3 separate regions of the Homo sapiens genome follow, and all the other regions are linked to region 1. Evidence: fine-mapped expression QTL. A gene starts in region 1. Each other region holds a variant in brackets. All regions are shown on one strand. Distances are between the middles of the regions.

The links. PIP is the estimated chance that this variant, and not a neighbour inherited with it, causes the effect.
Region 2: its variant is fine-mapped to the expression of DOK1 in whole blood (TOPMed, PIP 0.92).
Region 3: its variant is fine-mapped to the expression of DOK1 in whole blood (INTERVAL, PIP 0.94).

What each region holds. Positions count from the first base shown.
Region 1 is chr2:74,548,700-74,558,459 of GRCh38, forward strand. DOK1 (docking protein 1) reads left to right here and starts at 6,021. Exons shown (of 5, transcript NM_001381.5): 1 at 6,021-6,115; 2 at 6,455-6,754; 3 at 6,876-6,969; 4 at 7,195-7,379; 5 at 7,609-8,852. The coding sequence starts at 6,056. The coding sequence ends at 8,415. It overlaps LOXL3 (lysyl oxidase like 3), which reads right to left and starts at 5,243. Exons shown (of 14, transcript NM_032603.5): 1 at 5,177-5,243; 2 at 3,623-3,947; 3 at 1,486-1,649; 4 at 670-884. The coding sequence starts at 3,935. M1AP (meiosis 1 associated protein) reads right to left here. Exons shown (of 11, transcript NM_001321739.2): 11 at 9,184-9,760. RefSeq lists silencers at 78-397, 4,063-4,357, 4,343-4,637, 5,363-6,112 and enhancers at 4,343-4,637, 6,121-6,638, 6,263-6,322.
Region 2 is chr2:74,616,896-74,626,655 of GRCh38, forward strand. All of the region lies in intron 2 of M1AP (meiosis 1 associated protein), which reads right to left. It also overlaps the pseudogene TOR1BP1. Among named protein-coding and RNA genes, the nearest start is that of M1AP, 27 kb to the right of the region's middle. The variant A/G (reference allele first, on the strand shown) is at 3,433.
Region 3 is chr2:74,331,786-74,341,545 of GRCh38, forward strand. It overlaps SLC4A5 (solute carrier family 4 member 5), which reads right to left. Exons shown (of 31, transcript NM_133478.3): 3 at 7,070-7,118; 4 at 2,242-2,392. Among named protein-coding and RNA genes, the nearest start is that of SLC4A5, 6.8 kb to the right of the region's middle. RefSeq lists a silencer at 1,570-1,659 and an enhancer at 3,162-3,351. The variant A/C (reference allele first, on the strand shown) is at 3,468.

The DNA of each region.
Region 1 (9,760 bases):
AAGCACAGGCAGTTTCCAGGGTGATGCGTTTCCCTGGAAGCCGGACTGGACCCCAGGGCTCCAGCGCAGGTGGAGAGGTTGGGCCTCGCCAAAAGAGATCCTGGGAAACTTCCAGGACTTCCAGGAGCCCCGAGGGCTCGAGCGTTCACATACGCGCCCCGCCCCGGGGCGGCCCGGGCAGAGAGACTGGCGCGGTCTCTCCTGGCGCCCTTCGGCCATCGCGCGCCGCCGTCCCCGGGCCCCCGGACCCTGGGCGCCCAGCCTGCGCGGGACACACCCAGGCGCCGCCTCCCAGGGGCGGCCGCGTCCTTACTGAACTCGGAAATCGCTGGCCGGCAGCGCCAGCGCTGGAATCGCCCCCGCGCCTGGGAGTGGCCTCGCGAGGCCGGCGCGCGCCCCGGGGCCGAGGAATCCGCCTGCCCGCCCAGGCGTCGGCCACGAGAGAGCGGGAGCCTCGCTGGTCCCCATTTCAGGTACTCCCTTGGGGCACCTTTCGTGGTCCCACAAGATTTCCCAACTCTCCAGCTTTGCAACGGCCTCCATATTTTCCCGCGCGTCCCGACCCCCGGGTCCTCCCGTGCCCCGGACCTGCTCAGATGTCTCCCAAGGCTATTCATCAGGGAGCACCCCAATCCCGGCCTGCTCCGCCCGGCGCCCGCGGCCCCTCACCTGTAGAAGGCCGCGTTGACCCTCTTTTCGCTGGGGAAGCCCAGCATCCCGCAGACCACGTGGCTGTTGTGGGCGCTCCAGCCTTTGTCGCACACTTGCGACCAGCCGTCAGGAAGCCTGACTTCCACCAGCCCCTCCGTCACGGGCAGGGGTCGTCTGCCCCACCCAACGGCGGGTCGAATTCGCACCTCCTCCACTTGCAGGTGATGCTCTACCTGGGGGCGGGGCCACAAGCAGGGAAAGAATCCCAGTGGCACCTTTCATGTGTCCCGCCGCCCTTAAGGAACCCTGCTTGGTGTGCCTGCTGTAAACCCAGTGGCGGGATGGGCCCGAGGCGGCGCTGAGAGAGCGGCCACGATGGCCGCAGTCCGCGGTGTGGACTCTCTTGCAGCCAGCAGCGCGTGGGATGTGCTGTGCTCCCAGAGAGGATTCAGGGCACTAGGAAGGAGGCCCTCCCTGTGCCTGGAGCAGGAGGGAGCACTTCAAAAAGGAAATGGCTTTGAAGGAGGAGAAAGTCAGAAGGAAGATGTCTCAGGAAAGCAGGAACATTTGAGGAGAAGGAGAGCACCAGGTGCCCCAGGGGTGACTAGGGATGAAGCTGGAGAGGCTCATGCCAGGTTTAGCCCCTTGAATGTGAATGCTAAAAACCTGTTGGATTTTACAGCATCTGGGAGCTCTATCATTTGCTTTTCCAAGTCTCCCACCAATCCAAATGATCCCCCAGGGGTAACTACCTTCTAATGTCTCCGCTAACCACCCCACAGTACTCTCGGCTATCCTGGGTAGTGTGTGTGTGTATGTCTAGGAAATGCAGACCTCAATGACATTGGAGTCCGAGAAGCCAGGGAGGCGCTGGTCTTTGCAGATGACCCCAGCATCCTCATCGTGCGTACAGTCACTGTTCCCCCAGCCCCGGGAGGCACATTCAGTCACACTCTGCTCGGTCCCACTGCAGCTCAAGTTGTCCAGCCAGATGCGGCCTGTGGAAGGGGAGATGAAGGGACAGAGAAGCTTGGGGAGGGAGGATGGGGGAGTAATGGGGATGTAGGGAAGAGTGAGTGCTGAGGCCTCCCACTTGGCCATGATGATCCCATCTTTCTGGTATGATAAGGGGTGGAGACGGGACAGGGGACCCTGGCAGGGAATAGGAAGGGGGCATAAGATTGAGGGAAAATTGGTGTGATCTGGGGATACTCAAGAACCTGATACGGTGAATAAAAAACCAAGAATCAACCCTGAAGTTCTGATCAGTCTCTACCCATTCATTGATAGCTACAATTAATCAGGTACCTACTGTGTGCCAGGTGCTCTGCCATGGTGTGCACATATGTGATCATTCTTAGAACAGAGCTGCCAGAACACTGTTTTATATAAAGAAACTGGGGTTTAGAGAAGCTGAGCAACTTGCTTAAGACCATAAAGCCAATACGTGGGGGCTTAGGAGTTTGATCTATCTGTGAGGCTTGGATGTCTAAGATCCTTTCTTCACATCCTTGCATTCTCTCTTGTGCCCGCCCTGTCTGTGCTGCCATATAGCCCCTTGTTCTTCTCTCTGTCTGAAACCTGTTTTTTTTTTTTTTTTGAAACGAAGTCTTGCCCTGTTGCCTAGGCTGAAATGCAGTGGCATGATCTCAGCTCACTGCAACCTCTGTCTCCCAGGTTCAAGCAATTCTCCTGCCTTAGCCTCCCAAGTAGCTGGGGCTACAAGCATGTGCCACCATACCTGGCTAATTTTTGTATTTGTAGTAGAGACAGGGTTTCAACCATGTTGGCCAGGCTGGTCTCGAACTCCTGACCTCAGGTGATCCACCCACCTCAGCCTCCCAAAGTGCTGGGATTATAGGCGTGAGCCACTGAGCCCGGCCTGAACCCTGTGGAGTATCACTGGCTTCCTCTCAGAATTGGGCGCAGCCTCAAAGGTCATCTGTCCTAGCCAATGTTCAAGGACATCTCATTCACATCCCAACAGGACTTACCCAGTTGTTGCGGAGACACCTAGCTCCTGCCCCACCAGACTGTGTAACCATCAAAGTCCTTGTGACTCTTCATGACTTTCCCCTACCACATCTGATTCATTCCTTTGGTGCCAACCAGAAAAATCCTTCAGCCACACGACTGTCCTTCCCATATTTAAAAACAACCATTACGCCATTGCTATGCAAGGTTTTTACTTTCCATATCAATCCCCTGATTCTTCAGCAATTCCTCCTTGAAACTTGGCTTCTGAATCTTTCACATCTAGGCAGCTCTCCTCTGAAAGTATTTCCATTTTCTACTGTCCCTCTTAAAACACAGCATCTACAAATGACACTTAATTCCACAGGTGGTCTAGCCAGTGGGAACTGGGGAATCAGCTGCAGGTTGCACCTGCTTCTGTCCATCATTCCCACTGTGGGTTCATACCATGGGCACAGTCCTAGGCCTCACCTAGGGAACTGCTCTTAAGCCTCCACCACCCACACTCATACTTGTCCTAGATTTTATACTTGTCCTTAGACAGTACCACCTTGTTAGTTTTAGCTCTGGCCCATAACCTGATTTTGTTAGCTGCAGTGTCTGTGACCCCTTGTGACTTTGGGACATCCAGATATCATTTACCTGCTCTTAGCGTCCCATGAGACTAACTGTACTTTATTTGTACAGGGCTCACCTGTATCTGGGCTGTTTTGTGGATGGCTTTGTAGGATCATACTTTTGCAGCAGAAAAGAACTTAGACATCATCTAGTCATTTTGCATACAGGGCATCTGAGGCTCAGAGAAAGCACTGACTAGCCTAAGGTCACACAGCTCTGGGAAGTAACTATGTTGCTTGGTTTGTCATCCATGGATTTACTCAATGCTGGCTGTTCTTGGTGTCGTGTGTCCCTATGGCTGTGCCATCCTCGTGTTCCCTTTCCCTGCACTTTGGCCACACATAGGAAATATCTAGGATATGCCTGGATCATTGCTCACCTGTTCCAGGGCCATATTTGGCACTGTGGGTCCAGCCTGTGGCCTCTGTGAAGCCCAGCTCCCGGCAGAGGATGTGGGCAGCCTGCAGCGTGAAGTCATCATCGCAGATGGTGCCCCATTCACCAGCTCGCTGTATCTCCACGCGGCCCTCGTAGGGCTTCCTGGGGAAGCCAGCCAGCCGGAACCGAAGCCCCTGGCTCCCGGCCTTCTTCTCAGGGCCCGTGGAAGGGGACGGAGACCCCAAGCACGAACTGCACAGCAGGCACAGCAGCAGCCCCCAGGGGCTCCACTGCCAGACACTGACAGGTCGCATGGCAGGGAAGGCCTGGGTGCCCCAGAGACAAAGTGTGCGTGAGAGAAACAGATTGAGTGGGGCCCAGAGTCAGAAAGAGAGGGAGAAGTCACGAAAGAAAAACAGACACTGAGTAAGACAGAGACAGCGAGAGACAACAGGAGAGAAAGAGCCCCAGGGACCAAGAGACAGGGAGAGAAACACATTAAATAAGGGCTGAGGCACAGGTCATAGAGGCACAGCCTGAGAGACCCAGAGATAAGAGACAACTATGAGAGATCGAGAGTCAGAGAAGGGTCAATAAAAAGAGATAGAGACTGAGCAAGAGACACGTAGAGAGAGAGGAAGACCCAGACAGACAGGATGTGAGAGGAAGGGAGACTGTGGGAATGAGAGAGAGAAAACCAGAAAGACACAGAGGAGAGAGACAACGGATAGAAAGTGATAGGCAAAGAACTAAGCACTCAGTATAGGGGAACCAAGCACACCGCGGGTGAGAAGGAGAGGGATTGACAAGAGCCAAGGGGCGGACGTGGGAGGGATCCAGATGACCCCATTTACTCAGAGGGAGGACAGACAGCTGTACTGATTGTGCAGAGAGGCACGTAAGGGGCCCTAGGCGGCCCTGGGATCACAGATCCCCTGAATGGGAGCCCAGAGTCCTAACCCAGCAGATTCCCAGGCAGGGAAGGCTGGCACCAAAGCTCGCCTGGAGAACCTGCTGCACGCCCTCCCCAACACGCAGGCTCTCAGATGCCCTGCAGGGTCAAGAGGCCCAGGAGGGCCAGGCCTCAAGGCTGGGCGGGGGATGGGGTAGGGTTGTCCCAGCCTCCTGCCAACACCACCATCCCTGTCACCGGGCAACGGGAGGCCAGGCGCTATGGCTCCTCAGCCAAGGCCTTCTCTGCCTAGGGCTGAGAACAGCCCCTCTACAGCAAGCCCCCGTCAACATGCTTCCCCCAACCCAAACAATCAATCCAACAAGGCAGCTTTGTTCTGGGTTGGGGACCCAGGGGCAGCGCCTCCCGGAGGAGCCCCCTCCCTTAGGGCGCTCCTGGCGGCCCTGTTCGAACACCCGTAGCCCCCGCCTCCGGTATGTGCCTCCTCCGTGTACTCTGTCTCACTTGCCCTTTGACAAGAATCAAACTCTCAGTTGGGTGGCTTCCCCTCGACTCCATCCCACACCACCCGTTTTCCCTGGTCCCTCCACATCCTCTCCATCCCCTACTCATTCCCTCTGCGGTTAGCGTGACTCCCCCTACCTTGGCCGAGCAGGACCCTAAGGGCTGGGAGAAGAGTGCTGGTCCTGGAGATCAGTCCTAGGACTTCCAAAAAAAAAAAAAAATGCTCGGCCAGGGGAGACTGGACCCCCCTCTCTCCCCCTTCTCCGTTCGTCCCTCCCACATCCCCCTGAGCCCTCCCACATTCCGCCTTCTCCTTCCATTCCTCCCGGCCAGTTCCCTCCTCTCCTCCTCTGGGTCCTCCCTCCCCGTGGAGCTGGCCACTGCCGCGCCCCCTCCCCCTCCCTGGCCCTCCCGGCTCGTTCAATGAAGCTTTCTCTTCCCGCGGCATGGAGGCCAGGCCTCTGCGGTCAGGGAGCTGACATGCAAGCGGCGGCCGGGCGGCGGGGCGGCCCCGGTGGTGGCGGGAAGCGGTTCAACCCCAGCCCTCCCTCCGAGTCCCGGGCCAGCGGAGTCTAAACAGCCCGGCTCGGGCGGGGCTGGGGGCGGGCCCGGCCAGGGTAAATAAAGCCCCGGAGGCCCGTGTGGGTCTCTCCGGTGCCCGGGGCGCTTTCGGGGTGATGTCATGGCTTTCACTCTGACGTCACCTTGGGCATATGACGTCACGCGCAGCCACCACGCCCAGAGGCCAGGGCCCTCGCGCCAAAACCGAGGACTTTCGGTGGAGCCACTGGCGCGCCCCCACGACGGCGGGTAGGGGCCTGGGGTGCTGCAGCTCCCGGCTAATCCGGGGGTCTCCACCATTCCTTCTCGCTCCTCTCCCTCACCCCACCGCGACCCCCCCAGCGGCTGCCGGCGGGGGCCGGGGAGGGGCGGAAACTCCTCCAGGGAACCCGGCCCCGCCTCCCGCCCCGCCTCCCGCCGCAGGGCCAGGAAGCGCGGAAGGAACCGCCGGGGGCCATGGACGGAGCAGTGATGGAAGGGCCGCTTTTTTTGCAGAGTCAGCGCTTTGGGACCAAGGTAGTCTGGCGCATGGATGCCGAACCTTATCCGGGCTAGTAGTGGGTGAGAGAGCCCAGAAACAGGGAGAGGTGGGCAGCGGGCTGGAGAGCGGCGCCGGGAGTTGGAGAGCCTGTGACTTTCCCGTGAAGTTGCTTTGCACACTCCCGGGAAGCGTCTGTAGTCTAGGGGTTCTGGTCCTGGGGAGACGGAGTGGCATCGTCCTTGGGAAACTTCGCCCCCAACCCCGTTTGGAAGCCCCAGATCCCAAATCGACTTGCGCCGCAACCTCCTTCCCCGTCGGGACCCGGGCCGCCTGCGCACGCCACTCCCTCTCGAGCACTCTCTCTCTCTCCCTAGAGGTGGAGGAAGACCTGGGCCGTGCTCTACCCGGCCAGTCCCCACGGCGTAGCGCGGCTCGAGTTCTTTGACCATAAGGGGTCGAGCTCTGGGGGTGGCCGAGGGAGCTCGCGCCGCCTGGACTGCAAAGTGATCCGTCTGGCTGAGTGTGTGAGTGTGGCCCCCGTCACCGTGGAGACCCCCCCTGAGCCCGGCGCCACTGCCTTCCGCCTGGACACTGCTCAGCGCTCGCACCTGCTGGCGGCCGACGCGCCGTCCAGTGCAGCCTGGGTGCAGACGCTGTGCCGAAACGCCTTTCCGGTGAGGAGCTGCGGCGATGCGGGGTGGGGGCAGTTACAGAGGCAGAGAAATGGGGCTGCCTCAGACCGACCCCCGCTCCCCGCTGAGGAAATTACGGGTTTCTCGATGCTCTCTACTACAGAAAGGCAGCTGGACTCTGGCGCCTACCGATAACCCACCTAAGCTTTCTGCCCTGGAGATGCTGGAGAACTCCTTGTACAGCCCTACCTGGGAAGGTAGACGCCTCAGAAGCCCGGGCAGGGATGGAGTGAAGAGGAGGAGGGCCGAGGGCCTTTGGGAAGTGGGTGGATACCCAGGGGCCCATGGGGAAGTAAGAAGTAGGAAGGCCCTGAGATCTGGCTTCCGAGTGAGTGCTTGGACACTATGCTCATGAGTCCTCTGGGTCCCCACTGCTGCCCCCGTCCCTCCCCCGCAGCTGTCTAATCGTGTATGCCTTCCAGGATCCCAATTCTGGGTAACGGTGCAGAGGACTGAGGCCGCCGAGCGCTGTGGCCTGCATGGCTCCTACGTGCTGAGGGTGGAGGCTGAAAGGCTGACTCTCCTGACCGTGGGGGCCCAGAGTCAGATACTGGAGCCACTCCTGTCCTGGCCCTACACTCTGTTGCGTCGCTATGGCCGGGACAAGGTGCAGGGGCTGTCCGGGAGGGCTTCCTGGGTTGGGCAGCTGTGGGAGGGGTGGGGCAGGACAGAAAGTGGGAAGCTCTGACCTTTGGATCCCCCTTTCTTGCCTACCCGGTGACCCCGCGTCTGTTCGCAGGTGGTCTCTTCTTTGTAGATACCCTAACTAGTGCAGGCGTGTGACTCACTTCCTCTGATGGCTCCTGGTAATGTGTTTCCCCCTCTACCCTCCTTAGGTCATGTTCTCTTTCGAGGCCGGCCGCCGCTGCCCCTCAGGCCCTGGAACCTTCACCTTCCAGACGGCACAGGGAAATGACATCTTCCAGGCAGTTGAGACTGCCATCCACCGGCAGAAGGCCCAGGGAAAGGCCGGACAGGGGCACGATGTTCTCAGAGCTGACTCCCATGAAGGGGAGGTGGCAGAGGGGAAGTTGCCTTCCCCACCTGGCCCCCAAGAGCTCCTCGACAGTCCCCCAGCCCTGTATGCTGAGCCCTTAGACTCCCTGCGCATTGCTCCATGCCCTTCCCAGGACTCCCTATACTCAGACCCCTTGGACAGCACGTCTGCTCAGGCAGGAGAGGGAGTACAACGGAAGAAACCTCTCTATTGGGACTTGTATGAGCATGCGCAGCAGCAGTTGCTGAAGGCCAAGCTGACAGACCCCAAAGAGGATCCCATCTATGATGAACCTGAGGGCCTGGCCCCAGTCCCTCCCCAGGGCCTTTATGATCTGCCTCGGGAGCCCAAGGATGCATGGTGGTGCCAAGCTCGGGTGAAGGAGGAGGGCTATGAGCTCCCCTACAACCCTGCCACTGATGACTACGCTGTGCCACCCCCTCGGAGCACAAAGCCCCTCCTTGCTCCCAAGCCCCAGGGCCCAGCCTTCCCTGAACCTGGTACTGCAACTGGCAGTGGCATCAAAAGCCACAACTCAGCCCTGTACAGCCAGGTCCAGAAGAGCGGGGCCTCAGGGAGCTGGGACTGTGGGCTCTCTAGAGTAGGGACTGACAAGACTGGGGTCAAGTCAGAGGGCTCTACCTGAGAAGGACGGCAAGGCTGAGGTGGCTAAGGGGGACCATGGGGAGGTGGCACTAGGGATCAAAGAAGATGGTTAGAACCAGCAGAAGCCAGAGGGTGGGAGGGGCCATGCTGTGTGAGACCAGGGGACCAGAGGGATGGGAGAGTCAAGGGAAGGACAATCCCAGGAAGTCCTAAGAAGTGGGGCAGATGGCAGGGCTGAGGATGGGCTCTGCATCCCCCAAAGCCATCCCTTCCCTACTTCCCCAAATGAAGGGACGGCTGTGGGACCAGGTCTGTGGAAAGTGGTGCATGGTCAGAATGGGTGCAGTTTGAGGGGCCTGTGTGGAGGCCTCAGGGAGATGTTGGACTGTGCCTGGATCCTTACTCCTGCATTGTTCTTTGCCAGAGACCTATTTAAAAATTTTAAAATTCTCATTAAAGTCAGCTTGGGTTTAAGAAGTTTATGTGTGTGAAGAGAAAAAGAGGGGACACAGTGGTTGGGTTGGGTGTGGTGGGGATCAAGAGGAGAACCAGGAATGTGTTGAGAGTCACGGAGAGGCAAGGGGCCCAGGAAGGGAACAGAAGTGTGGCGGTTCAGTGCCTGGGGAGTCAAGTCAAGCTGCCCTGGGCTAGATGTGAGCTCTGTGGCCCTGGGTGATAACATCTGCAACCCTCAGTTTCCCCTGTGCCCCTCTGTAAAATGGAAAAGCTATAATGGGCTCTACCTCACAGGGCTTTTTGTATGAAATTAGATACATTATAAGTATTTAGTGTAATCTGAAGCACAGGGTGTTTTTTTAAAAGTTTTTATTATTTATGTAGAGATGGCGGGGGGGTCTCACAGTGTTGCTCAGGCTGGTCTCGAACTCCTGGCCTCAAGTGATCATCCCACCTCAGCCTCTCAAAGTGTTGGGATTACAGGTGTGAGCCACTGCTCCCAGCCCAGAGTAAACATTTTATAAATGGTAGCTATTATTCTGTGGATGGAGGGAGCAACAGGAAGGTTGGTACATGTGGGGAGAGGGTAACAGGAAAGGAGTAGGTCTTTTTTTACACCATCCTCTCCCCTGTTCTGGGCAGCCCTCCCACCCCCCAGCACACACACTTTGCATGTAGGTACCAAGCACTTGTCTCTTTGGAGGCTGAAGCCTGGTGGTGTAGTGGGAAGGGCACAGGCTCTGAAATGAGGCTTGGATTTCAATCTTACTTGTCTTTTATGAGCTTTCAAAACCTCATCCTTGTTCCTGAGGTCCAGTTTACCAAAGGTGATCTGACCTCATCCACCTGCTTACACAGAGCTACAAGAAGAAATTCTGAGTTATGAATGCTCCTAACAATGGTAGAAGCTTACTGGGTGTTTAATCTTC
Region 2 (9,760 bases), 68 kb after region 1:
AATGACACAACATTCAGTATCAATTTTTATTCCTATTTTATTTATTTGGTGGCCAACATGGGTTGAGTTTATTGCATCATTATAAACAGAGAAAAATCTTGTTTTCTCTTGACCAGATACCCAAAAGGCTATAAAAGAAATGTAACTTAACTCCAATTTGAGAATATGTACTAAAAATTTTAAGCCTCACCTTGGTATTTTAAAAGACTAAATGTGATACCCTACAAGGCATTTTGATGTCACAAATTCATTCTATTACATTTTATATACAAAAATGCTACACCATTGTTCTAATTATGTGTCTGCAGTTGTACTACAACTATAGGACAGACACAGAATGATTCAAAATAGCTGGAATCTAAGCCTTACTTCTCAGTGATCAGGGCAGTCCAGCCTGGTGATGTCATATAGGGTGTCATTAGATGACACCCAGAACCAGCCACAACTTCGGACTAAGCTTGTTTGTGTCTACAATTGTGATGACATATTACTATGGATTTAACAATAAAAATTCCAAGCTAACGCAGGAACAGAAAACCAAATACTGCATGTTCTGACTTATAAGTGCGAGCTAAATGATGAGAACACATGGACACATAAAAAGGGACAACACACACTGGGGCCTGTCAGAGGGTGGAGTGTGGGAGGAGGGAGAGGATCAGAAAAAATAACTAATGGGTAGTAGGCTTAATACCTGGATGATGAAATAATCTGTACAACAAACCCCCATGACACAAGTTTACTTATGTACCTGCACATGCACCCTTGAACTTAAAATAAAAGTTAAAAAAATTCATACCATTTGTTTTAAGAGTGTCTGGGAAAAAATAAGCAATTATTCCATTTTGTGCCCTTCTCATGTTTTAAAATAAGCAATGTTCTATATTTCTATTATCGAAGGTTCAGAAGTAAAAACATTATAATAAATATACAAATCCTTGAAAACTCTTAGCATTTCTAGTGTTTAATACTCCCACTTCTTTGGCAATGCCGAATCTGCAAACTGACTGCTTAGTCTGTGCACATGTCAACTATGGAGAATGTGCATGTCCTGTGAATTTCAAATGGTTCTCTGGAGTAAAGCAAGAGATTGACCCATATTTTAAAGGTAACAGCAAACGTTTAACCTTAGGAACCAAGGACTCAAATTTGAAGCTACAGTCTTATTCTGATTAGCTTCTATGATGATATGGTTGGGGGGAATTTAGTAGCAAGTGAAGGTCAGGAGAAGATGTGGTACAAGGAAGGCAAGTGGGTAAGTGATATCAAGTGAGAGATGGGTGAAGGAATTCCATGATCACAGATGTAATCAGCAGCCACAGCAATGGACCTGTCTGCCCTGCTCTGCAGAGACCTCAGATGGAGCTCCCACCCCACATGCAGACAGTTCACCCCAGGCCAAGAGTGCTCAGCGTGCAGGGCCATGTCCTCCCACCAGACACCACCTGTACCTGTCAAGTGCCACCAATTTAAACTGAAAATACAAGTCAGTGAACCCTCTCTGTGTGAAGAAAAAGAAACAGCAGAAGAATGTTTTTAGCAGGTGAAAACCTAATGCTCTTCAGACTGTAGCAGGGCCCTTGAACCCCTTCAGTCACAACAGTAGCTTCTGAGGTGTGGGTGTTGTGGGTCAGAAACAATCCTCGATCCTCAGGCCTCCCTTGCACAGCTGTTTCCAGGCACTTCTGTCAAAGTCAGCAACAATAAGTGTGAAGGGGATTTTATAGTTTATCTTTAACTGCAATTAACAGCTGGATTGATGTCATGTTGCAAAATGACAAGTGCACTTGACAGATTAGTGTCTTTTCAAAAACCAATTCTTAGAAACTTCTATATCCCGAAAGTTCACAGGTGCAAATGTGCCAAACCCCAAAGAAGTCTTCAAAATGCCTCTGAAAGGCAAGGTCCCTCGTGTGCTGAGCCTCCCAAATCCCTCTTATCCCATCTGGTTAAGAGCTCAGTGGAAATCTAGCTGTCATTGTTCAGTCTTACAGCTCTTGACTGAGTAGATTTTCTTGTCTTTGGGGAAAAGCGTCATTTCCTCTGCCACTCTTGTGACAATGTCTTCATCTATAGCAGAACCATGGGCCCTCATCTCTGCCTTCATGCATATTTTCACGTCTGTACTTCATCGGCAGGAAAAAGGTAAAGTAATTGATTAAGGTTTTGTTGATCAGTCCATTGCACCACAGACCACTGTGCTTATTATTGAAGACTATCAGACGGCACAGGTTCCAGGTCCTTCAGCTAAATGTCTTCCCTCCTTCCTCCTACCCACCAAAAGTCAAGAGCTATCTCAGTTATGAGGTCCCTGTCTATGTTTCTGGGAAAGATGAAGATGGCTTTTTGGTAAAAACCTTTTTGTAGTGGTCTAGAAACAGACTGATTGTGTTGACAACCCTGGGGGTGGAATTTATGCATCTTGTCAAATATGAAAATAGCTGGAATATGCACTCACATTACCATGAATCCACTTCTGTAACTGGTCCTAGACCAACCATAAAAGATGAAATGGGATGGGGAGGCTCAAAGGATGCTCTGAGGGAGCAGAAGCACTATGCTGCTCTTCATGCTCTAAAAGACTTAAGATCAGAGCTCCCTGGGGAAGAACTCTAGGAAACTGCACTCTCACCTCCATTCAGTGGGTAAGTTTTTCCAAAACTTTATCTATACAAAGTTGAAATTGGCAGAGAGATAGGTGCTAAAATGCAAGGAAGTTTTTTCCTAACTCAAATGACATGTTAAATGTGACTTTTTTAAAGGTATAAGAGACACAAGATACATAAATATTTATCATTCACCGTTAACTAATCCATAGTGTTCATCTCACTGTGAAGCAAAATCTCAACTTAATATTACCAGACATATTGAAGAATAAGGAACTAGATTAAGACTTGCACAGTGCCCGAGACCAATGCCTTGTACTGACGGAATGAATGAAGGAGTTGACCTAGGTGACATCTCATGAAAAGCATTTATTCTGATACATTCTTGGAACAAAAAGACACCCAGGCAACAAGCTCTCAACCTCACAATGTAAAAAGGTTGTGACCAGGAAACTCCCCCAGATACATCCTTATTTATTTTACTATATTTCTAGAGATTTACGAAAAAATGTGAAAAATAAGAAAATTATTCCTGATTTTGGCAGTCTTCTCTATCTTACAGTTTGTGTGGCAAACACTCACTTTCACTTCCTTGTTCAGTTAAGTTTCTGTTTCTTATTTCAGTCCCCACCTAATAGTGGGAATATTAACCTTGACAAGGACGACATTCATTTAAATGAGAATGAACCCTCCTAGATAATGTAATACAAATTAAATGTGGAAGGAATATCTGAAAAGGAGAAACAGTGTCAATGTTCAGTTATTTGAGGCTTTCTTTGAAGAAAGCAATGCCAAGGACTCGAAAGATGAGAGGAACAAAGGGAAT[A/G]AAAGGTGTTTAGAAGAAAAGAAATCCTCTAATCTACATTGCAACATGCAGAGGCAAGGCTGAGGCTGCATCATAGGTGGAGAGCATTAAATGACCCCATGCCCAAACAACCTGCTGAACAACCCCCACCTAACACCAAATGCTCTGTGGGAATGTTGAGTGCATTCATTCATTGGAGAATGTGACTACCATGTAAACTGGGAGTTGGGAAATTTGGGTTCAAGTGTGTCTTAACTCAGTGGAGCCTGGGGCTACTGCAATGCAAAGAAAAGAGAAGCAGAGGCCAGAGTTAGTGCAGTTTGCCCAGACCAGTCCAAATGGCCTGTGAACAAGATAATGCTGGGTTCTCCTGCCTGGTACAGTTTTTTATCTTTTGCTCATGAGGGAAGTACAGAGTTAGTACAAATAGGTGGAGAGTTACTCTTCAGGCCTTTTGAGTGAAGACGTTCAGCCACAATTTGGCTGACAAAATTCTTGCCTATGCCAGCTCAGCCACGTAAGGAAAGAATTAGTTGTTTCTAGGAATTTCTGTTGCTTCTGAAGCCAGTCAGTGCCTTGAGAATCACTTCCGCGGCAACATGCTGTCCAAACAGCTTCTCCTTCAAATCCAGCTTGAGGGCTCTAGGAGTCAGCTCCAGAATAGAGAAACACACCTTAAAAATGCGCCAGAAAGGCCGGGCGCGGTGGCTCACGCCTGCAATCACTTTGGGAGGCCGAGGCAGGCGGATCACGAGGTCAGGAGATAGAGACCATCCTGGCTAACATGGTGAAACCCCGTCTCTACTAAAAATAAAAAAAAAAAAAATTAGCCAGGCGTAGTGGCGGGCGCCTGTAGTCCCACCTACTCGGGAGGCTGAGGCAGGAGAATGGCATGAACCCGGGAGGTGGAGGTTGCAGTGAGCAGAGATCGCGCCACTGCACTCCAGCCTGGGCGACAGAGCGAGGCTCCGTCTCAAAAAAAACCCCAAAAAACAAAAAAGCACCAGAAAAGCAGCACTTTCCCAGCTGGCAAAATGAGAGGCACAGATTAACAACTGATCCAGCCGGGCCTCTGTCAAATATGGCAGCCACTGGCCGCCTGTGGTTATTATCTGAGACGTGGCTACTCTAACTGAAGGTTTGTTGTCCATGTAAAATACACATAAGACTTTGAAGAGTAGTAAAAAAGATAATATTGGCCGGGCGCGGTGGCTCACGCCTGTAATCCTAGCACTTTGGGAGGCCGAGGTGGGCGGATCATGAGGTCAGGAGATCGAGACCATCCTGGCTAACAAGGTGAAACCCCGTCTCTACAAAAAATAATAATAATAAAAAAATTAGCCGGGCATGGTGGCGGGTGCCTGTAGTCCCAGCTACTCGGGAGGCTGAGGCAGGAGAATGGCGTAAACCCGGGAGGCAGAGCTTGCAGTGAGCCGAGATCGCGCTACTGCACTCCAGCCTGGGAAACAGAGCGAGACTCCGTCTCAAAAAACAAACAAACATAAAAAAGTTTAATATTGGTTGGGGGCGGTGGCTCAAGCCTGTAATCCTGGCACTTTGGGAGGCTGAGGTGGGTGGATCACTTGAGGTCAGGAGTTCGAGACCAGCCTGGCCAACATGGTGAAACCCCACATCTACTAAAAAAAAAAAAAAAAATACAAAAATGAGCCGGGTGTGGTGGTGCACACCTGTAATCCCAGCTACTCGGGAGACTGAGGCATAAGAATCACTTAGACCTGGGAGGCAGAGGATGCAGTGAGCTGAGATCATGCCACTGCACTCCAGCCTGGGCCACACAGTGGGACTCCATCTCAAAATTAAAAAAAAAGACAATATAAAAAATTCAATAAATTTTTATATTGATTACATACTGAAATGATATTTTGGATATGTCAGGACAAATAAAATATTAAAATTTGTTTTGCCTGTTTATTTTTTATTTTATTTTTTGAGACAGAGTTTTGCTCTTGTTGCCCAGGCTGGAGTGCAGTGGCACGATCTTGGCTCACTGCAACCCCGCCTCCCGAGTTCAAGCGATTATCCTGCCTCAGCCTCCTGAGTAGCTGGGATTATAGGTGGCTGCCACCATGCCTGGCTTTTTTTGTATTTTTAGTAGAGACGGGGTTTCGCCATGTTGGGCAGGCTGGTCTCAAATTCCTGACAGGTGATCTGCCCGCCTTGGCCTCCCAAAGTGTTGGGATTACAGGCGTGAGCCACCGCGCCCGGCCATTGCCTGCTTTTTTTTTTTTTTTTTTTTCTATTTTTAAAGGTGGCTAATAGAAAAATTTGTATTATATGTGTGGCTCACATTACATATCTAGTAAATGGTGCTGATTTAAAGGATATAATTCAAGGAAGAGAGAGGGTAACTGATCACAGAGAAATGGTCTGATATGCAAGAAGGAAGGGTAAGCAAATAAATTGGTAAATATATGAGTAAAATGAAATAAATATTAGCTGTATAAAACAATAGCAGTAATGTCTAATTTGGGGGTAAAATACAGGGGCAAAAATATGCACGATGAGAGGGAGATGATCGGAGTTAAAGCATTCTAAGGTATTGTTTAGTGAAGGGTAGAGATACCAATTAATTTAGGGCAACCCCTAAAAGAAAATAAATAGATTATACACTTTAAAAAAAAATAGAGTGGAAAAAAAAAAAACAAACCCAAAATCAGATAGTAAATGGGAGAAGCAAGCAAAGAAAAGGCAGGACAAATAGTAAACACCAAGTAAGATAATCAGAATAATCTTAATAATAATAAGGTCAGTAATTACAATAAATACAAACTTACTTCCTAAAATATACCAGCTAAAAAACAAATTATTGGACTAGATTGAAAAATTCCACTGTATGTCATCTCTAATATGCATACCTAAAAACAGTAATAATTGAGAGTAAAATAATGTTTAAGGGCTGGGTGCAGTGGCTCACGCCTGTAATCCCAGCACTATGGGAGGCCGAGGTGGACAGACTGCTTGAGCTCAAGAGTTCAAGACCAGCCTGTGCAACATAGTGAAACCCCGTCTCTAAAAAAAATATAAAAATTAGCCAGGCATGGTGACCCGTGCCTGTAGTTCCAGCTACTTGGGACTTGAGGTGGGAGAATGGCTTGAGCCCAGGAGGTGGAGGTTACAGTAAGCTGAGATTGTGCCACTGTACTCTAGACTGAGTAACAGAGCCAGACTCTGTCTATAAAAAAAAAAAAAAAGAGAGAGAGAGAGTTTGAGGCATTGAGACATACCCTCAGACATTTAAATTTTATCAGGTGGGCTCCACGCACTGATATATTTTAAAACTTCCTCAGGCAAATCTAATGTGCAGCTAAGGTTGAAACTGGTTTAACTTATGTTTTATTTAATTAAACTAATTAATTTTTTTTGAGACAGGGTCTCGCTCTGTCACCCAGGCTGGAGTACAGTGGCGTGATCATGATTCACTGCAGCCTCAAACTCCCAGGCTCAAGCGATTCTCTCTCCTTAGCCTCTGGAGTAGCTGGGACTACAGGCATGAACCACCACACCTGGCTAATTTTTAAAATTTTAGTAGAGACAAGGTCTTGCTATGTTGCCCAGGCTGGTCTCGAACTCATGCGCTCAAGCGATCCTCCCAACTTGCCTCCCGAAGTGTTGGGATTATAGGCGTGAGCCACCACACCTGGCCTACAATATACTGTTAATTAAAAAAAATTAGATAATGGAATCAGCAGGCATAGTATTATCTCATTTATGTAAAATTTAAGTCTTTTCTCTGTGTATCATCTATCTATAGAGTTGTCTTGAAATAGGCTGACACTCATATCATTGTTGGAGGGATTGGTCACAAAGGCATAAGCAGGCTAGTGCTAGATCAGCATAAGCCAGCATTAAAGTAAAGGTGAAGAGGATTTCAGAGGCTGTAAAGCTGTGGCACATTCTAGTTGGTTATCAGAAAGTCAAGTTAGAGAAATAAGGGATAAAAAATTGGTAATAATTGGGTAAACTCCAGGAATCAGTAGACATATATTATTGACCTAGAACACTTGAGTATGGCTAATATTTGTTGGACATCATGTAAATGCCTTGGCTTGACAAAATCTTCAAGAATTCTATTTCTGGGCTTTCATACATGAACTTTTTTGGGTTATCTTATAGATAGATAATATGGCCCTAGGCAGTTAGGATAACTTAGATTGATGTTTCATTGGAGGTCAGGTCAAGAAACCAGAATGCAGTTTAGGGAGGGGATTAAAAATATTTAAAAAGAAAATCAGAATTCCCTTTATAAAAAATCAAATCTTACAAAGACTCCCTATATATAAATTGGTATTTTATCAGCATAAATGTATTTTTAATATTTATGTGTTTTGAATACATACATTCATAGGGTTTGAAATTCAAAAGGATATGTAATTCTATCATTTTTCTTCCCTAAATAGAAGTGATGGCAATACTTTTCTGTATCTTGCTTTTGTTGATTATTGTATTTGAGCAATCATTTCACATCATTATAGAGTATTCCATTAATGGATGAACCGTGATTTTATGTAACCAATCCCCTATTTACAGACATTCAGTTTGTTTCCAATCTTTTGTTACTGCAAACAGTGCTAAAATGAATAATCTTGTACTTAAGTTATTTTTGTACATGTGTAAATATATATGTAGGATAAGGTCCTAGAAGTGAATTTGCTACTTTAAAAGATATGTAAATTGTGATACTGTCACCAAATTGCCCTCTATAATGTCGATTTATACACTGACAAATGGCATATAAGCATGCTTATTTCTTCAAATTCTCATGAAAATGTGTCACAGAAAATTTTTGCCAATCATATAGGTGGAAAGTGACATCTCTGCATATTTGGGTTTCTCTTACTATGAATGAGGTTGATGTATTTTCATGTCTCAATGTCATTTATATTTTCTTTTCTGAAAACTGACTGTGTATATCCATCCTCATTTTCTACTGAGTTATTGAATGTTTTTTTCTTACTGAGTTGTAGGAGTTTTCTATGTATGTAGAAAATTAACTCTACATGATATGAGAAGCAAATATTTTTCCTCATAGCTATTTATCTTTAGAATTTGCATGTGTGTTCTTTTCCAAGCATACATTTTCTGTTTTTATATATTATTAATCTTTTATTTTTAGATTTTTTGGTTTTATATTATGCTTAGAAAAGCCATTCCTATTATTTTCTCCCCATGGTCTGTGTATTAATTATTAATTTATTGCCTCTCAACTCCAAATTCATCCTTCAGTACATGCTCTGTGATAAATTCCTTTAAGCATTTCTCTTTTACAGTGAGCACAATGTTAAGTTTTCTTAGTAAAGGGCACTGGAGGGACATAAAGAGGCTCTCCTATTGTTACATGCAGCATACTGTGGGTCAGCTGTGGGGTATAGGGACACCTAATGGTGACCCATCCATGCATTCAGAATTCATAGTCTTTCAGTGACTTCATAGCCCTGCCTGGCCTAGTAATCGCCTTTCTGCAGCCCTTTCAACATGGACACCATATGATTCAGGCCTCCTGCCTGTACTAATGCCTAATTCCCTTTGCTTACTTGTTCCTCCCCGTGAGAAGTTTGTCTCCTGTGGCCATCTCAATGCTACTGCTCTTCCAACATGGAGAATACGTATTCTGGGCATCCTGCCTACACTCTCTCTGCATGCCTGTAAGCCCAGCCACCACTGTAGCTCACCTATCACTGGAGAGTAGCTTCCTGCTTTCCCAGGAACTGCAGACCAACTTTAGCCTTGACAAACTAGTGAACTCTGCCATCCAGTGGGTTACAAATACACATTCTGCAATTTGGTGTGAACCCCAGCCTCGGGAAGGGAGTCCCCCTTTCAAGTTTGACTTTCCTTAGGATCTCTCCCTTAGCCCTAGGGTACCATATAAATTCCCTTATATCTTATAGGTAATCTATTATCATAGTTTAATATGTTAAGCTATATTTCAGTTTTTTTTTTTTTTTTTTTTGAGATAGGATCTTGCTTTGTCACCCAGGCTAGAATGCAGTAGTGATGCAATCATAGCTCATGGCACTGGGCTCAAGGGATCCCCTCGCCTCAGCCACCTGAGTAGCTAGGATTACAGTTGCAGGCCACCATGTCTGGCTAATTTTTTATTTTTAAATTTTTTGTAGAGATGAGGTCTCACTATGTTGCTCAGGCTGGTTGTGAACACCTGGCCTCAAGCAATCCTCCCTCCTTGGCCTCCCAAAGTGCTAGGATTACAGGCATGAACGAACACGCCCAGCCTGTATTAAAACTTTTTACACAAACTTTCCTTGTTTAAATCACTGTGTGGTTTGTTTCCTGATTGTACTCAGACTAATACAATCTGTTCTAGTACTTG
Region 3 (9,760 bases), 220 kb before region 1:
CTGCTCTACCTCTAAACTCATGCTATCTAGCAGAGGATGAGTGGTTCGTGTGCTTGGAGAATTGGAGCACATAAAATGGGCATATGTCATGACTCAGGTTCTTCTGGATTTCCTCCTTCTGGGAACAGCCTCCTCAGAGAAGGCCTGTGCTTCCCTCCTCTCCTCTTCTTTTCAACCTGCCCTAGGAAGGGCAGGTTCTTGCGTTGTGGGATAGGGGAGTCTTCCAGTTCTGGGTAGATAAGTTTCATTCTGAGGGAAAGAATTAGGAAGCCCAACTGTACATTCAAAACCACATTCTCCAATCAGCTTTAGCTGTCATAAATTTATTTTAGTTCCAGCTGCTGGACTTCTATATCTTATTTCTCATTTGATTCTAAGCACAGAGGGGTTGTGAACAAGTCTCATTCTCAAAGTCCAGCACTGAAGAATTAGTAAAAGAGTCCACATAGACTGGGTTGGACTCAAGGATCTCTTAAGTTTCTTTGAAACTCTACTGCCCTACGATTCTATGTGTCTAAGTGAAATTATCGCTGAAGCAAAATAAACATACATTGACAGTTCTGGTCAGATGTTGGGACTCTTAATGGATAACTTCCCAAGCTCTGACTCCCTTCTTTCCTGCTTTTCAACTGCATGAAGACCTTTGATCTTCAGGCATCTTCCTCTTCTCCCCATATACCAGCTCCTCATGGCTTCATTTACTTCCCCTTCTGGTCTGGACATCATAATGAATCCTTTCCTCTCTTCTCTCATTGATACTCATAACCTCTTATTCCTGCCCTGCCAATCTCTTGGGCAAAATCAGTCCATTCGTTAACTTTTTCCTCCTGCACAAAGTACTCTTTTGTCTCTGGAAAAAGCCTGTCTTCAGTGGGAGAGAGAAAAGCCAATACACAGAATGGCAGAGGGGTGTCCATTTGTGTGTGTGTGTGTGTGTGTGCGTGTGTGTGCGCATGTATGTGCATGAAAGAGAGAGAGAGATGAGGAGGGAGAGAAAGACCTAGTCCTGTGATGTGTATGGCCAACCTCATCCCTGCCCTTCCCTGTGGTTTAGTTTTGTAAGCCAAAAAATGTTGAGAGAAGATATGGCTACCCCTTTTCTCTCTGCTCCCTGTCCTCTGGCCTCCTTCCATGTTACAGCCAAGGACATGCCAAGCCAGCCACTCAGCTGTGGCACTGAAGTAAATGCTTGGGGGATACTGTCAACTCTTCCTCACCACCAGAGTGGTAACAGCTGAGGCTCATGCACTGGTCTTGGGGAAAGGGAAAGAACTGGCCCCAGTGTTCCTCAGCCACAGGTGTCTTCCCCTGGGCACATCTGGCAATGTCTGGATCTATTTTGGTTATACTGGAGGGAAGGTCACTACTGGAGGGAGAGTACTTCTGGCCTCTAGTGGGTAGTGGTCAGAAATGCTGCTAACGTCCTACAAGGATGGCCCCCACAACAAAAAAATTATCTGACCCCAACTATCAATGGTGCCATGATCAAGAAATCCTGGATTAGGGCATTCAGTCTCTGGTTCTAGGCTCTCACTCAGGCAAAAGGAGCACTCAACATAGGCCCACCTCACTCGCCAGGGATCTGCCAGGAGAGGGAGCTAAAGATTCTTAGTACAGTTGGCCCTCTATATCCACAGGTTCCTAACCCAAGGAGTCAACAAACAGCAGATCAAAAATATTTGAAAAAATAAAAATAAATAACAATACAACAATAAAAAATAATACTCCCAAAATACAGTATAAAAAACTATTTACATAGCATTTACATTGTATTAGGTATTCGAAGTAATCTAGAGATGATTTAAGATAAACAGAGGATTGCATAGGTCACATTTTATGTGAAGGACTTGAGCATCTTCAGATTATGATATCTACGGGTGGTCCTGGCACCAATCCCTTGCAGATGCTGAGGGATGACTGTTTGACCTCTGTGCCTCCATTTTCTTCAGATACCTGGTGGACAGTGATGGCTGCTCACTGGGACGGATTCCCTTCCATCTCCTGGCTAAATGCCATCTGAACCCTACCTGGGTTTGACATCTGAAAGGATTTAGGTAGGTCTGACCTAGGACCATGGCATGGGGGCAAAATTCTTTGAAGAAAATAGCAGCTTCCTACCCTGGAAAGGCCTGCGGGACTTAGGCCCTTGTTAATGGGACTAAGGATTCATTTGGGGGCCCTGGCAGGCTTATCTAGAACCTTTACCCACAAGAAGTTCCCCACAGGCTGGGCAGTACTCACCACAGTATGTGCAATTTTTGGCTTCCAGATTGTTTGTGCCAAGCTTTGGCAGGTGGTACAATATTGGCTGCCCCAGATTCTTGTCTGCTTTAGCTGTTTCTGAACCATGTCCAGGGTTGAGAAGGGAACATACTGTGATGGTGTCAGCACTCTGCAGGAAGGTGAAAAAAGGTGAGAGATATGTTAAAGAGAAGCTGAGACATTGTAAGAGGCCAAGCCCAGGTGATGCTGTGGAGGAGTTCTCTTTCTTCACCACCCCTATCTACTTCCCAATCGCTGCTGTGGCCTATGGACTCGGCTCACTCTACAGCAGCCACGACGCAAGTCTTGCTGTTCCTCTAACACCCCAGGCTCATTCCCACCTCAGGACCTTTGCACTTACTGTTTCCCTAATCTTCAGCCTGACTTGCTACCTCGTGTATTCAACTATTTGGTCAAATGCCATCTACCCAAGAAAACCTTCCCTGACCAGCCCATCTAAAATGCCCCTCTCTGGTCATTAACTCTGCTTTATTTGTCTAAATGGCATTTCTATCCAAAACCACAGTATGTGTTTATTCATTTGTTCACTTTTTGTCTGTTCCTCCAATATGGCAGAAAGTTTGTCTTATTCACTGATGTATCTCTGATACCTAGAATAGAGCCTGGCTCATAAATGATTGGGTCCAAATCCTGACTCAACTAACTGTGGCATCTTGGACAACTTCTTTTTTTTTTCACTGCAATTTCCTCAACTGAAAAAAAATGCGAATAATAATTATATCTACCTCAATGGTTATCTGAATCAATGTGAAACCTTAGGTCAATGTCTGGCCCACAGGGAATAGTTAGTATTAACTAATAATATTATTATAATTATTACACCCTCAGGAAGAAGCTCACATGTGTATCCTGAGGAGGCGGGGAGGGGGATGAGCAGTATTCCTAGCAGCTTGCAGGAGCAGAGAGTCTTTTTTGCTTCTCCAGGAACCAAGTCCTGTTCTCCCGTCTTGCCTGCTCTCTGCTGCCCTCTGGAGGTCTGCAGTGGAGTCAGGCAGGGAGCTGATTCAGGGACGCCACAGATTATGTATCCTCCACTTCCTATGGGATAGCTGCTATCATTCCCATTTTACAGATGAGGAAACCACTTCTCACAGTTGTAAGTAACTTGCCCAAAGTCATGTGATCTCCTGCTCTTAATCACATGATGAAGAATGAGACATTGCTGGATGACAGTCTCTCTACTT[A/C]AGCAAGCTAGAGCCCACGGAGGCATCTTGGGCCTTGGCAGAGCTGCCACTGGAGCCATCATTTGGCACACACTATTGGGAATCATTGAGGCCACAGAGGAAATGTGGGTACCTAGGAACTCGTTCTTCAGACAGATCCCCAAATGGACCCAGAAACAGCATGCAGCCAAGCAAGGGCTGGCCCCTTCCTTCCCCTCTCCCCAGGCTGTACTTCCTTAGCCAAAGGACAGTTCTCTGATCACCTCAGCCAACCTGAGCTACCCTGGAAAGCTACTTCTCACCCTGTGCCCCTGTGCCTCTCTCTCAGAGCGTATGTCACTGGCTGGGCCAAATGATCTTCATGTCAACCTAAAATAAGAGGGCTATGGAAAGACATAGCCTCTAGAGACATCTGGGAGCTGATTAACTAATAAGAACCTGGAGACACCAGCACTGTCTGATCAAAAGATACAATGGAGGAAAAGATTTCATTTTCAATAAAAACAAAAACCCTAAAACATCTAGAAATAAACTCGCCTAGAAATGCATGTTTTATATGAGGACACGTGGCAAAACTTTGCTAAGAAACACATAATAAGACATCATATTTCTGGATGGGAAAACTGAATAGGGCAAATATGCTTAAGTTCAGACATTTATATATATTTTAAATACAATTCCAAGGGCATTTTGAATGAAAATGACCAAAAAATCATGGCTAAAGTATGAGCTTAGAATGTACTGAGTTTTTACTATGTGCTAGGCTCAGGGCTGACAGCTTTACATACCTTACCTCAATTAATCCTCACAGCAACCTCAAGAGGTCATTTCATTTATTTATTTATTTATTGTGGAGACAGCATTCTCACTCTGTCACCTAGGCTAGAGTGCAGTGGCACTATCACAGCTCACTACAGCCTTGACCTCCCAGGCTCAAGCGATTCTCCTGCCTCAGCCTCCCAAATATCTGGGACTATAGGCAGGTGCCACACCATACCAGGCTACTTTTTAATTTTTTGTAGAGATGAGGTCTCAATATGTTGCCCAGGCTGGTCTTGAACTCCTGGGCTCAAGCAATCCTCCCACCTCAGCCTCCCAAAGTGCTGGGATTACAGGAGTAAGCCACCACGCCTGGCTGAGGTCATTATTAATATTTATGAAAGACAGGTTGGGGAAGTGATTAAGAGCAGGAGATCACATGACTTTGGGCAAGTTACAACTGTGAGAAGTGGTTTCCTCATCTGTAAAATGGGAATGATAGCAGCTATCCCATAGGTTTATGATGAGTATTAAATGAGGTAACATACATGAAACATTGAGAGCAGTGCTTGGCAAGTAGAAGCACTGATATGAACTACTATTATCCTCATTTACAGACGAAAAAACTAAAGCTTAGAGAGGATAACATAATTTGCCCAAGTTCACACAGCTGATAACTGGCTGCCCTGGCCTGGGGGATGGGAATAGGGAGTCTTGCCTACAAGATCTGAAAAATTATAAAATCATAATAGTTAAAACAGGAAGCACATCTTGTATAAGATATTTTTATATGCCTTGCAAGATTATGTTCTGAAATATTAGCCAATGCCTTCTCCAGCCTGATACTCCCCTTACCTCTCTCCCTTCCCTGCCTCAAATAGCCAGGCCATTCTATGCTCATTGCTGCAGGGAAGGTGTGTGAAAACAGAAAGAAGAGGTAAGGAGCCTCTTTCCTTAGGGGAATAGAAGAGACTTCTGGCCTAGACCTAGACCAAAGTGTGGGAGAAAATGGTCATGAGAAAGATCAAGGCATTCCCTGCCCCTCACTCATATCCAAGAATAATTCCCCAGGGCAAGGACAAAGGCTGGAGGGAAGTTGAGAAACATTGACTTTGCTAGGTCCTGGAGGCTGAGGTCCCAATCCCCGCTCCCTGGACTGAGCCCCACAGAGAAAGCAGCATCCCTCACAATCTGTGGATCTGAGAGCAGGGAACAGAACAGCTGCTGGGTGTATCTAGGCCAAGAGGACCCCAGGCAAGCTCCCTGAGTGAGGCTGCTTGAAGAGGTGGAGAGAGACTTTGACCTCCACAATAACCTGCAGGCACCAACGACCCAGGACCAGATGGGACAAGGATAGATGACATGAAGGGCAGGACCCTTTGTAGGTCACTGAGAGTCTAGAACCCTGCACTCCACCCCACCCCAAACCCAAAATGGAAACTGCAAAGGAAACTCAGAACTGACTGGGATTAAGGGTCAGCACCTTTTTAAAGAGCGGGGCTCAAGTACAGATGAAGGAGAATTTTATAAACAAACTAATTTTTTTACACACTTGAGTTTATGGGCCGAAACTGGTATTCTAAAGGATAAAGTTTTAAGAAAATAGTGTTAGGGAAATGCACTGTTTAAAAAATCCATTTAGAAGAGAAGCTTGGGCAGCGGACAAAGGCAGCAACTTAAATCATTCGCAGGGCTCAGCACATATTATTGATCTCTGCTCCGAAATTAAATGTAATTGTTCCTTAAGATTGAGCTTGAATTTGCATCCCGATCTGCCTTGGACAGTAACTATCTGCCCCTGTTGTCTTGGCTTCATAATTAGTTGTGCTCCTTTCATTCTCAAAAGGGTCCCATTTTGAGCAGTAAATTATGTGGTTATTCTGCCTAAGATCTTTAAATGAGAGTGATCCCATGGGTGGGCTGACTCTGAACTAGGTATCGTGAAACAGAAAGTAAGGCTTTCCAGGCAGGTGTGGCTGGAGCCCAGTGGCGCCTGACATGGAGCCTCTGGAGGGCAGAGAACCTCAGCTGGATGGGAAAGGAAGGTAAGGTAAAGGGCAGGTGGGGCATCAAGAGAGGGTCAGGTGCTTGGTAGTTAATAGGACAGTGGCGAGATCAGAGTAGAATGTTTGAATTTAATATTTCAGAGATGGAGCAGCTAAGGATAATGGTGTGGCCCAGGTTTTGACCATAGGCATAGGAGGGAGAAATGGAGGCAAATGGAGGCCTGATTTTGTTTGGGGACAGGAACTGGGCACTGGGGAGACACATGGATGGGGGTTTGTCTCTACTCTTGTACTCTTCAAATTTTGAATCTTGTAACTGTGTTATTTTAAAAATCTACAAGTAAAATTAAAATGCAAATCAGCACCACAATGAAATACCATTTTTTACCTTTCAGATCGGCAGATATCAAGAAATTTTTCAACAGTGAGAGAGGAGGGCAATGGGCCCTCATACATCTACTTGCCAGTGAGATGCAGATAAGCACAGCCTCGATGCAGCCAGTTTGGCTGTATTTATATAACTTTAAAATGGACATACCTGGCCAGGTACAGTGGCTCACGCCTGTAATCCCAGCACTTTGGGAGGCTGAGGTGGGTGGATCACTTGAGGCCAGGAGTTCAAGACCAGTCTGGCCAACATGGTGAAACCCCATGTCTACTAAAAAAATACAAAAGTCAGCCAGGTGTAGTGGCTGTAGTCCCAGCTACTTGGGAAGCTAAGCCATGAGAACTGCTCGAACCCAGTAGGCAGAGGTTGTGGTGAGCCCAGATCGTGCCACTGCACTCCAGCCTAGGTGACAGAGCAAGACTCCATCTCAAAAAAATAAAAATAAAAATAAATAAATAAAATGGACATACCTTTTGGTAGCAGCAACTCTTTATCTGGAAGGTTATCTTACACTCCCACCTGTGGACAAAAACAGAGATGTGGTTTGGGACAGTTACTCACCTCCCTGTGCTTATGTCACAGTTGTAGTGAGAATTAAATATGATACATGGGAAGGATTTTAACAAGGGCCTGGCACATGGTAAGCATTCAGGAAATGCTGGCTGTTATCATCCGAGCATTGTTCACAGTGGCAAAACATTGGAAACAACCTGAATGTCCATGAATAAAGGACTGATTTTAAAAAAGAAAGAAAGAAAAACAAGTTTTGTCTCTACTTTGGAAAACGATGAACCTTTTAAATAGAATGAGGATATTCTTTAAATGGTGCTATGGAATGATTTTTTTAGAAATATTGTTAGGGGAGGGAGAGCATCAGGAAGAACAGCTAATATTTGCTGGGCTTAATATCTAGGTAATGGGATGATCTGTGCAGCAAACCACCATGGCATACATTTACCTATGTAACAAACCTGCACATCTGGCATATGTACCCCTGAACTTAAAATAAAAGTTGAAGAAAAAAATAAATAGATTTTTAAATTTTTAAAAAAGAAATATTGTTAAGTAGGAAAAAGGGAAAGTGTAGAAGAGTGCTTATGGCTGTCATCATGCCTGTGTAGAGGGTGCCTATGGGTACAGTATGGTCTCTCCAGGGAAGAGGTCACAGAAACTGGTTACAGTGATGCTTCCTGGGAGGGGAACTTGGAGGTCGGGGCTCAGGGAACTCTATGACTTCTTGTACCTTTTATATTGTCCACCATACAGAGGTATTCCCTATTCAAGAACAATTAAGTAAATTCCACTTCTGGGTATACACCCAAGAAAACTGAAAACCAGGATTCAAACAGATAGTTATATCCCAATGTGCATATCAGCATTCTTCACAATAGCTAAAAGGTAGAAACAACCTAAATATTCATCAACAGATGGATAAATAAAATGTGGTACATACATACAATCGTGATTCAGCCTTAAAAAGGAATAAAATTCAGACACATGCTACAACATGAATGAACTTAAGGACATCACGCTAAGTGAAATAAGCCAGACACAAAACGACAAATACTGTATGAGTCCACTTATAGAGGTACCTAGAATTGTCAGATTTATAGATACAGAGAGTAGATTAATGGCTACCAGGGCCTGGGGCAGTGAGAAATGGGGAGTTAGTGTTTAATGGGTATAAAGTTTCAGTTGGGAATGATGAAAAAGTTCTGGAAATGGATGGTGGTGATGGTTGTATTACAGAACAATGTGAATATAATTAATGCCACTGAATTGTACATTCAAAAATAGTTAAAATGGTCAATCTTATGCTTATTTTGCCATAAAAGGAAATCATTTTAATAAAAATATTTCTTTATCACTTTGATTGGAGCTATGTTAAATGTAGATTAATCACAAAGAGCTGTGTTGTATGAGCAACAACAAAAAACAGTCCTATCCAAAAAAGCACTTTTGTTCTCCAAATTCTGGCATTTTCTATGCTAGGCAGGCCTGCTCTGCTTTGCTGGCTGGCTTTTTGGGGGTTCATGTTACTGAGCAGCGATGAAAGGCTGAACCAGGACCAGGGGAAGAGGGTAGCTTCATCCAAGATGGAGGAGAAATGGGCAGGAAAGAGATGATGGGTGGGGGCAGAAGCAGAGAAATTCCCATGGGGCCATGAGGATGAGATAAATGGGGTGGGTGTAGGAAAGGAATTTCCTACAGGGGTGGAAAAAGCTGGCCTTTGAGGGGAGTAACAGAGGAGTTACAGCAAGAATCTGTAAAAGAATCACCATGTTCCACTGGTGAGCTGGAGATCACAAACGTATAGTTTTCATATTCTTCTCACCTCTTCTCTTCCAGGCAACAACCCTGACGGGGTTGAGGACCCTGGTTAGCTAAATAAGTGAGGAAGAGTGGAAACCAGGGACTCCCCATCCAGACCACCATCCACCACGGGCCTCTGTTCTTTAGCAGCACCAGAAGAGGCTCCACTCCAAGTCAAGATTGAAGTGGTATCTTTAGGTAGGACTGGAAATTATAATTATTAAAATGAGACTGAGACCAAGGGTGGCTGGAACAACCTTGTGACTTGCCTAAATTCCATTCAGGGGCAAAGCAAGAGCTAGTCCCACCGAATAAATGTAAAAGAGGCTGGGTGCAGTGGCTCACGCCTGTAATCTCAACACTTTGGGAGGCCGAGGTGGGTGGATCGCCTGAGGTCAGGAGTTCGAGACCAGCCTGGTCAACATGGTGAAACCCCATCTCTACTAAAAATACAAAAATTAGTTGGGCGTGGTGGTGGGTGCCTACAACCACAGCTACTCAGGAGGCTGAGGCAGGAGAATCGCTTGAACTCAGGAGGTGGAGGTTGCAGCGAGCCAATTATTGTGCCACTGCACTCCAGCCTAGCGACAGAGCGAGACTCCATCTCAAAAAAAAAAAAAAAAAAAGAGTAAATGTAAAAGAGCAGTAAGAGACAAAAATCAAGCTGCTTTCTGATTTTACCACATAAGTCATGTTTGTTCAATGGAACAGTGCACATTAGCTTTAATTGTTAATTAACACGCATCTGTTAAATAACCTTGTATCTGACTTTGGATTTTAAGCTTTCTGAGGGCAAGGACCATGTGCTGTTTAACCCCACACTGTTCCCACAGCCTGGCAAAGTGCCT